Regions from separate parts of the Homo sapiens genome. Here region 2 is linked to region 1. The links come from fine-mapping of genetic effects on gene expression. A gene starts in region 1. The other region holds a variant in brackets. All regions are shown on one strand. Distances are from middle to middle.

Region 1 (5,241 bases):
AGTGTGTGGTGGAGCACACAAGAGTCCCTGGCTTCAGTCCCCAAATTGAACGTGCTTTATCACGACTTTAGAGATCCAAAAAACACTCACATACATAGACATACCTTACATAGACATAATTACTGAAGTTACACACCAAGTTCAGGAAGACAAAAGCAAGAGTCCAACTAGAACACAGTACTGAGAGAGCACAGAACCAGGAACAGCCTTGCTCTTGCACAAGGGTGGGAAGAAGAGTTCTTATAATCATGTTCACCATCCCCTCTCCCCAAGGAACAGGTCATCTCCATGTACCTGTGTCCCAGATCTAAACAGCAATTTCATTCCACTAGGTTAAGGTGTTTGCCCATGGCTGAGACACCTGCCGGAGAGGAAATGGGGTTTCTGTGGGAACCACTAACACCACAGCGTGAATGTGTTGATCAGGTTCTCCCTGACAGACTCTTTGAGGAAAACAATGCCATCTCAGTCTGTTCTTTAAAGGAGAGACAGGGTGGGATGAGGCTGTAAGGAAGGTAGCGGGTGGGGACTGAGGGAAGGCAGGGGTAGGAAGTAGGGTGCACACAGGCAAACAGAGAGGTGTGGCTCCTGCTGAGGCCACCCTCCAGCAGGTGGAGGCAGGAGTCAGAGAAGAGAATCTGAGGGTAGAGCAGTGTTGTTGGTGGTAGGAGCTACCCTGTCCCCTGGTTGGCTTTCTAGATGGGGATGGCAGGTCACCTCTTGGAAATACAGGGGCCATCTGATGTGGATTGATGGCTGCCTAATCTGTTGGCCAGTTTCTTCAGGTTTTCAGTTCAAGTACACGGAAGGGTCATGAATGCAAATGCCTGCCATGCACGCTGTATCAAAAAATGAAGCACATTAGAAACTTCCACTCATCCTCCTGGTGGGTTTCAGTAGGTTTTTCTCTCCTTGGCAAAAACCGGTGCGTGAACCGCCCGTCAACACCACCTGCTGTTTCCTTTACACAGGAGGCGGTGGGAGGGGAGGCGCTTCCAGATCTCCTGACACAAAGGGCTGCCCACCTCCCTGGTCCTTTACCCGAACCTTCAGGAGGCAGACGACACACACACTAGCCAGCCACTCTCTCCAAGGCAAGGGGAGGGGGACAAAAAGCAATTTTGAGATTTGTACAGTGCTTGCCAGGTCCTTCAAAAATGACTACCGGCCGCCCATGGCTCTTGCACAGCGGGTGGGAGGAAGAGTCCTTGTAATCCACCTCTCCCAAGGAACTCCTGCGCGAGGTTTCAGATTCCCCGCCTGCAGGCTATGGCTGACTTCCCCGTATCCTGTGTGACGTGGGATGTGTGGCTTCGCGCAGGTAAGGCTGGAATACAGGTGCCTGGAGGGACACCCAGAGCTGCCCAGGCACTTCCCGGCGGCTGCTTCCTTTGCACTTTGCACTTACAGGTGCACTTATAATAAAAACACCCTCCCTTCCACGCTCCCCTGGGCCCTCCCATCTCTCCTTCCTCTTCCACGCTCTCCTGGCTGTTGAATGTTTTCCACTGAAGGAGTCTAGTCTGTCCACCTAGGGGGCTCTCCCTCCCTCGGTCCAGGGCATTCGCGGCTCACAGGTCAGCTCGGGCAGAACCGCCCTGACCACCTATGAGCTCCTCGGGACACCACCCCAATGCCAGGGTGAATCGTCCTTACACCCTCAGTCCTGTCCGAGCGGCCTGATCCTACCTGTTTCCCAGAAACTGCTACGCGAAGCTTCCCCGCCGGGCTCATCCAGGGCGGAGGGGTCTGTCCCTGACGCAGACTGGGGGCGGGTCCGCAAAAGCGGGCTGAATGAATGAACGCAGCAGGGCTGGGGCCCCCTGGGGCTACAGGCCCCTGCTATTTGGCCCGCCCTGTGGCCCAAAACACTGGACTTGCCCCCCACCGGTCAGCGGAGCCCAGACATCCAGGGAGCCCTAATGGAGCCTGGACAGGAAGGCAGCAGGAGGTGGGACCCGGGGTGCGAGTGACCCCGAGGCCGTCCTCCGGAGCGCAGCGCGCCCGCGTGGGGGAGGCCCGCCTACAGTCGGTGATCCCCGGCCGCCCCCGCCAGCGCCCCGGCCCGCCGCTTACCATGCACCGCGCGCTCCGCCACACCCACGGAGACGAGTGCCCTTTTCCGGGGAGCAGGCGGCAGCCGGTCTTTTGGGCTCCCCCGCCCCGGCCGGCGCCACCCCGGCCTCCACCCGCGGGATACGACCCCACGATTCCCTAGGGCCTGGGCTCCGCCCCATGCACGTGGCGTCACAGGCTGGGCGGGGGGGCGCACCCAGCCGCGCATGCGCAGGCGGGAGAGGAGGTGGGGGTCGGGGGACCCAGTTGCGCAGGCGCGGGCGGAGTATGGGTGCTCAGCTGCGTAGGCGCGATGGCCTTCTTTTCTTTCTGCAGGTGGCCTTGCGGTTTTCTCCAGTCCACAGCCGGGCTGGCGTCGGCCCAGAGAGGGGGGCTCGGCAGTCTGGTTCCCCGAGCGTCTCATGGCGGGCCCTCGCCAGATTCAAGGGGTTCCCTTGGCCAGTTTCCTTACGGCGCGGCGGAGCTGGCCCTCGTCGTCCCTGGTAGGGGGCAGCCTCACAGCCTGGACCGGCCTGTGCAATTTCCCCCATCCCTCCACGTCTACATTTTATTTTTTTCTTTTTCTTTTTTTAGGACAATGCATGATGGAAATGCAGCCACATCATAGCAGGCAGGTTCATGAAATCTGCCCTCCTCCCACCGTTTCTTGACCCCATTTTCTTATTTTTTTTTTTAACAGGTTCTCACCCAGGCTGGAGTGCAGTGATGTGGTCTCAGCTCACTGCAACCTCTGCCTCCCGGGTTCAAGCGATTCTGTTGCCTCAGCTTCCTGAGTAGCTGGGATTACAGGTGTGCGCCACCACGCCTGGCTAATTTTTGTACCTTTAGTAGTGACGAGGTTTCGCCCTGTTGGTCAGGCTGGTCTCGAACTCCTGACCTAAGGTGATCCGCCTGCCTCGGCCTCCCAAAGTGCTGGGTCTATAGGCATAAGCCACCACACCCGGCCCTTGACCCCATTTTCTGTCTTCCTAGAAATCACCAAGGTTGCAACTCCTGACTGTCCTGGCTCACAGGCTCCAGCTTACTTAAGGACCCCACGGTGGGGGCTGCCCACTTGCACACCTATGCTAGGCGCCCTCATTCCCGCAAGGGCCAGAGCCCCTTCCCGGCCCATGGCGTCTGGCCAAGGAGGTGTGGGTGCGCCCCAGCCAGGCCTGGTCCTAGAGGACGGCCCCACCTGCGCACTGGGGCATCTGGGAGAGCTATTAGTGGAAGAAGCCCAGGTTCCTGAAGCACCAAGTGGGCAAGAGTTTATTTTCAGGATGGGACGCTTTTGAGGGTGAATAAGTGCTAGCTGTATGGGATGCGGGGACAGTACACAGGCCCGGCCTGGCAGCCGGGCAATGCGGTGCCTGTTGGAAGGTCGCCCACAAGCACCTGGTTGGACACTGCCACTGAGATTTGGTTATTACAGAGGTTAGCCTATGCGGGCCTTCACTGATGGACCTTGAAGTGTTTCCCAGTTGCTTTGGGTTAGGAATAATGTGACTGGATCCCGTGGATTGTCTTTGTGCATGCATGTGGGTATATCTGTCAGAAATATTCTTAGAGGTGGAATTGGCTATGGTGGGATATGTCCTTTAAAATAATATATTAGCCAAACGTGGCTAAATTGCCCCCCTTAGACACTGTACTAATTTACACTCTGGCAAATAATGTGTAAGACTGTGGGTTTCCACACATCTTCACCAGTGGGGTCTTTCCAAACTTTTGGATCTTTCCCAATCCAATAATGACAAAACTATATCTCATGGTTTTAATTTACACTTCCTAGTATTTTGAGATCCTGTCGTGAAGTGGTGATGGCCCTGTTTCTGCCTGCTGCACTTGGCAACATGTGTTATCACTTCCTTTCTTTTCACCACTTTTTACTCTTAGAGTTTCTAGAATTTGTGAAAGTAAAATCTTTTTGCTGGCATGGGCTTTTGTGTGTATTATACACTGCTTGGAAAGGTCTTGCACCACATCTTCCCTTCGTAGATTGTTTCTCAATGTTTAATACTCAGCTCAAATGTCACCTCCTCAGACCATTTTATCTAGAATGGCCTCCTCTAGTTATTCTCTGTCACCTTTTATGTTATTTCCTTCATAGCACTCATCACACTGTAACCACCCAACAGCTTCTTCTTGCCTGTCGCCCAGATAGAGCCAATTTTTCAAGATGGGAATTGCAATAAAGAGTTCGATACACATAGAGCTGGCTAACCAGGAGAGCAGAGGCTTATTACTCCTCAAATCAGCCTCTCCTCAAATTCGGAGTCTAAGGAATTTTTTGGGGGGGGTTTGTTTTTGAGACAGTGTCTTGCTTTGTTGTCCAGGCTGGAGTGCAGTGGTGCAGTCTAGGCTTACTGCAACCTCCACCTCCTGTTCAAGCGATTCTCATGCCTCAGCCTTACAAGTAGCTGGGATTACAAGCGCACACCACCATGCCCAGCTAATTATTTGTATTTTTAGTAGAGACGGGGTTTCACCGTGTTGGCCAGGCTGGTCTCGAACTCCTGCTCTCAAGTGATTTGCCCTCCTTGGCCTCCCAAAGTGCTGGGATTGTGCCAGTCTGGAGGCTAGGGTTTTTAAAAGATAGTTTAGCAGTCAGGGGGCTAGGGAATGGTGAGTGCTGATTGGTTGGGTTAGGGATGAAATCCTGAAGAGATGAAGCTTTCGTCTTGCTCTGGGTTAGTTCCTGGGTTGGGGTCACAAGACGAGATAGCCAGTTTACCAGTCTGGGTGGCTAGTCCATCACAATGTGGGGTCTGAAAAATACCTTGAACACCAATCTTATGTTATATAATAGTAATATTATCTATTGGAGCAATTATGGAGGTTAGGAATCTTGTGGCTTCGGGCTGCATGACTCCTAAGCCATAATTTTTTTTTTTTTTTTTTTTTGAGATGAAGTCTTGCTCTTGTCCCCCAGGCTGGAGTGCAATGGTGTGATCTCGGCTCGCTGCAACCTCTGCCTCCCGGGTTCAAGCAATTATCCTGCCTCAGCCTCCTGAGTAGCTGGGATTACAGGCACCTGCCACCACGCCCGGCTAATTTTTATATTTTTAGTAGAGACAGGGTTTCACCATGTTGGCCAGGCTGGTCTTGAACTACTGACCTCAGGTGATCTGCCCACCCTGGCCTCCCAAAGTGCTGGGATTACAGGTGTGAGCCATCGCGCCC
Region 2 (5,241 bases), 150 kb before region 1:
ATCCCTGATTTTGTATATTCATATTCTCTTTCTAGCCCAAAACTTATTAGTCTATTTCTTGCCTTTTCTCGAAGAACTAGCTCTTGTATTTGTTGTTTTTATCTGTGAACTTTTTTCCTTTTTTTTTTTGAGACAGAGTCTTGCTCTGTTGCCCATGCTGGAGTGCAGTGGCGCCATCTCGGCTTACTGCAACCTCTGCCTCCCAGATTCAAGCGATTCTCCTGCCTCAGCCTCCCGAGTAGCTGGGACTACAGGCGTGTGCCACCACGCCCAGCTAATTTTTGTATTTTTGATAGAGACGGGTTTTCACCACGTTGGCCAGGATGATCTTGATCTCCTGACCTCGTGATCTGCCCACCTAGGCCTCCCAAAGTGCTGGGATTCCAGGCGTGAGACCCTGCGCCCAGGCTTTTTTCCTTTTTTTTTTTTTTTCTAAACCCACAGCCAACATCATATGTGAACTTTTTTTAAAAACATGAAAACATTTTTATTTTTCTGATATGCCTTTCAAGTATAATATAGACTTACAGAATTTGCCTTTCCAAGAGATTTTCAGACTTGCTGAAGAGATTTATCTTTCCTTCTGGGCTCAAGTGATCCTCCAATCTTAGCCTCCTAAGTAGCTGGGACCACAGGCATGCACACTGTGCCCAGCTAATTTTTAATTTTTTTTTTTATAGAGACAGAGTCTCCCTGTTTTGCCCAGGCCAGTTTCAAACTCAAGGTGCTCAAGGCGTCCTGCTGCCTTGGCCACTCAAAGTGCTGGGATTACAGGTGTGAACCACCACACCTGGCCAAGATTTATCCTTGACCATAACACTGACTGAAATGGAATCTAGAAAAAATAAATTTTATTATGGGAACTATACTCTTAGGTATTAAAATAATATAGTTAGTAGTTCATAATTAAATGAAGAAAAAACTCACAGGATGAGAGAGAAAGAAAGAAGCATACCCCAATCACACATCCTGGTACAGTTTTAAAGACAGATAATGGTTGCAGTCCAGGAGAGAGAAGGGTGCTGGGGAGTACCCTGCTGAAAACAGCATGCTGGCAGTATTTCCAGATGACAAACTCCTGTCCCTTATGAGACTCTTGCAAAACTTAATTATTTACAGGAATATATGTCTGTCTGGTAAAAATAATGATATAAAACTTCTAATATGTAAGCTGTGAAGGTTTCAAAATTAGGTAGTTTTCTCTTTCTGGTTCTGTGGATTTCTTCGTGTAATATTTACTTTTGTTTCCATCTCAAGTCTCTGAACACTAACTGCCATTCTCGTACCACCCTCATCTCTCATCCTGTGCTTCAGGTTTTCTGTGGAGTCCAAAGACACTTGACAGCTATGAGTAACATTTTATTGTTGTTGACTTTTTAAAAAATTAATAAACTTGGCCGGGCGCAGTGGCTTACACCTGTAATCCCAGCACTTTGGGAGGCCGAGGCGGGTGGATCACAAGGTCAGGAGATCGAGACCATCCTGGCTAACATAGTGAAACTTGTCTCTACTAAAAACACAAAAAATTAGCTGGGCTTGGTGGCAGGCGCCTGTAGTCCCAGCTGCTCGGGAGGCTGAGGGCAGGAGAATGGTGTGAACCCAGGAGGCAGAGCTTACAGTGAGCCGAGATCACGCCACTGCACTCTAGCCTGGGCGACAGAGCAAGGCTCCGTCTCAAAATAAATAAATAAACTTTATTTTTTAGAGCAGTTTTAGGTCTGCAGCAGAATTGAGTGGAAAGTACAGAATTTCCCATACACTCCTGCCCCGCCCCTACCACACATGGTATGCCACACTATCCACATCCTGCACTGCAATGGCATATTTGCTAGAATCAGTGAACCTGCATTGACACATCATCACCCCAAATCCATAGTTTGCATTAAGTAGGGTTCACTCTTGATGTTGTGCATTTTATGAGATTTCGACAAATGTATAATACTTATTTACCATTGTAGTATCATACACAATAGTTTCACTGCCCTAGAAATCTGTGTTCTTCCTGATCATCCCTCCCTACCCCATCCCTGGATGACCACTAATCTTTTTGCCATCTCCATAGTTTGACCTTTTACAGAATGTCATATAGTTGGAGTCATATAGTATGTAGCCTTTTGAGATGAGCTTCTTTCACTTAGTAATAAGCTTCACTAAATAATATTAAGTTTCTGCCATGTTCTTTTCATGGCTTGATTGCTGATTTCTGTTTAGCACTGAATAATATTCCATTGTCCGGATGTACCAGTTTATTTATTCACTCACCTATCAAAGGACATCTTACCTTGGTTATCTTATATTTATTAATAACTGCCAGACTCTTGGCAGTTATTAATAAAGCTGCTGTAAATGTCTGTTTACAAGTTTTTGTGTGGACATATATTTTTCATTTATTTGAGTAAGTACCAAGGAGCCTGACTGCTGGATCATATAGTAAGAATATGTGTAGTTTTGTGAGGAGTTGCCAAACTGTCTTCCCAAGTGTCTGTGTACCATGTTTGCATTCCCACTGGGAATGAATGAGAATTCCTGTTGCTCCACATTCTCCTAGCATTTAGTGTTATCAGTGTTTTGCATTTTGGCCATTCTAATAGTGTGTAGTGGTATATTGTTTTAATTTGCCTTTCTCTGATTACATATGTGAACACCTTTTCATATGCTTACTTGCCATCTGTGTATCTTCTTTGGAGAGGTGTCTGTTCAGGTCCTTTGCTCCTTTTAAAATCCAGTTATTTATTTTCTTATCAAGTTTTAAGAGTTCTTTGTATATTTTGTATAACTGTCTTTCATCAGATATACTTTTGTTAATATGTTTTTCCGAGTCTGTGGCTTATCTTCTCATTCTGTTGACATTGTCTTTTACAGAGCAGAAGATTTCAATTTTAATGAAACCTAGCTTGTTAATATTTCTTTCATGGATCATACCTTGGTGGTTTTGTATCTAAGAAGTCTTCATCGGCCAGGCGCGGTGGCTCAAGCCTGTAATCCCAGCACTTTGGGAGGCTGAGGTGGGCGGATCATGAGATCAGGAGATCAAGACCATCCTAGCTAACACGGTGAAACCCCGTCTCTACTAAAAATACAAAAAATCAGCTGGATGTGGTGG[C/T]GCTCACCTGTAGTCTCAGCTGCTCAGGAGGCTGAGGCAGGAGAATAGCTTGAACCTGGGAGGCAAAGGTTGCAGTGAGCTGAGATGGCACCACTGCACTTCAGCCTGGGTGACAGAGCGAGACTCCATCTCCAGAAAAAAAAAAAAAAGTCTTCGTCATACCCAAGTTCACCTAAATTTTTTTCTCTGTTATCTCCTAGGAGTTTTATAGTTTTCTGTTTTTACATTTAGGTCTATGACTCATTTTGAGTTTTATTTTTGTGAAGGGTATCAGGTCTACTTTCATTTTTTTCCATACGAATGTACAGTTGTTACAGCACCATTTGTGGAAAAGATCATCTTTGCTCCATTGTATTGCCCTTGCTCCTTTGTCACAGATGAGTCGACTATAGTTATGTGGGTCTATTTCTAGGCTCTTTGGTCTGTTGGTATTTTTGACAGTACACCACTGTCTTGATTACTGTGGCTTTATTGTAAGTATTCAAGCCAGCTTGTGTCAGTCCTCCAAGTTTGTTCTTCTCCTTTAATGCTGTCTATCCTGAGTCTTTTGCCTTTCCATATAAACTTTAGGATCAGTTTGTCAATATCCGGGAAATAACTTGCTGGGATCTGATTGGGATTATATTGAATCTATAAAGTTGGGAAGAACTGACATATTGACAATATTGGGCCTTCCTGTCCATGAAGATGGAATATCTATTTAGTTCTTCCTTTATACGTTTCATCAGAGTTTATCGTTTTCCTCATTAGATCTTGTACATATTTTGTTAGATTTGTATCTAAGTAGTTCATTTTGGGGGTTGCTAATGTAAATGGCAATATGTTTTGGATTCACATTGCTGGTATATATGAAAACTATTGGCTTATGTATATTAACCTCGTATCCTGGAACCTTGCTATAATCACTAATTAGTTCCAAGTTTTAGATCTTCTACATACATAGACAGTCATGTGATCTGCAAAGTTTTATTTTTCCTTCCCGGGTCTCTATACCTGTTATCTCCTTTTCTTATCTTATTGTGTAATCTTGCTTTGTTCCTAATCTTAGCAGGAAAGCTTCAAGCTTTTCATCATTAAGTAAGATGTTAACTGTTTTTTGTAGATATTATCAAGTTGAGGAAGTTCCCCTTTATTCCTAGTGTGCTGAGGCTTTTTAATCATGAATGGTTGTTGATTTTGTCACATGCTTTTTGTGCATCTATTTATATGATCATGTGATTTTTCTTTTTTAGCCTGTTGATGTGATGTATTACATTAATTGATTTTCATATGTTGAACTAGCCTTGCATACCTGGGACAAATCCCACTTGGCCGTAGTGTATAATTCTTTTTATACATTGTTGGATTTGCTTTGCTAATATTTTTTAGAGGATTTTTGCATTTATGTTCATGAGAATATGGGTCTTTAGTTTTCTTTATTTTTTAATTAATTTTATTTTTTGACACAGAGTCTTCCTTTGTTGCTCAGGCTGGAGTGCAGTGGTGCGATCTCAGCTCACTGCAACCTCCGCCTCCCAGGTTCTCCTGCTTCAGCTTCCCAAGTAGCTGGGATTACAGATGCCTGCCACCACACCCAGCTAATTGCTGTATTTTCAGTAGAGACAGGATTTCCCCATGTTGGCCAGGTGGTCTTGAACTCCTGACCTTAGGTCATCCACCCGTCTTGGCCTCCCAAAGTGCTGGAATTACAGGCGTGAGCCACCACGCCTGGCCTCATTCTTTTTTTTGAAGATGTTGCCCAGGCTGGCCTTGAACTCCTAGGCTGGAGCCATCCTGCTGCCTCAGCCTCCCAAGAAGCTGTGATCACAGGCACATACCACTAGGCTCAGCTTAGTCTTCTTTTTTGTAATGTCTTTGTCTGATTTAGGGTAATGCTGAGCTTATAGGATAAGTTAAAAAGAGATTGTTTCTATCTTTTGGAAGAGATTGCGGATAATTGGTGTAATTTCTTCCTTAAATGTTTGGTAGAATTCCCCAGTGAACCCATCTGGGCCCAGTGATTTCTGTTTTGGAAGGTTGTTAATTATTGATTGAATGTATTTAATAGAAACAGGCATGTTCAGATTGTCTATTTCTTACGTGAGTTTTGGCAGGTTTTGTCTAAGACAACAGTGTACATACCTTAATTTAAAAATACT

Evidence for each region. PIP is the estimated chance that this variant, and not a neighbour inherited with it, causes the effect.
Region 2: its variant is the best candidate, but not a certain one, in a credible set for the expression of ENTPD6 in whole blood (TOPMed, PIP 0.86).

Annotation. Positions count from the first base shown.
Region 1 is chr20:25,192,703-25,197,943 of GRCh38, reverse strand. It overlaps ENTPD6 (ectonucleoside triphosphate diphosphohydrolase 6), which reads right to left and starts at 2,232. Exons shown (of 15, transcript NM_001247.5): 1 at 2,077-2,232. LOC101926889 (a long non-coding RNA gene) reads left to right here and starts at 1,052. Exons shown (of 6, transcript NR_109994.1): 1 at 1,052-1,321. RefSeq lists enhancers at 507-556, 1,087-1,236, 1,617-1,686, 2,537-2,776 and a silencer at 1,977-2,396.
Region 2 is chr20:25,343,098-25,348,338 of GRCh38, reverse strand. All of the region lies in intron 1 of ABHD12 (abhydrolase domain containing 12, lysophospholipase), which reads left to right. Among named protein-coding and RNA genes, the nearest start is that of ABHD12, 45 kb to the left of the region's middle. The variant C/T (reference allele first, on the strand shown) is at 3,104.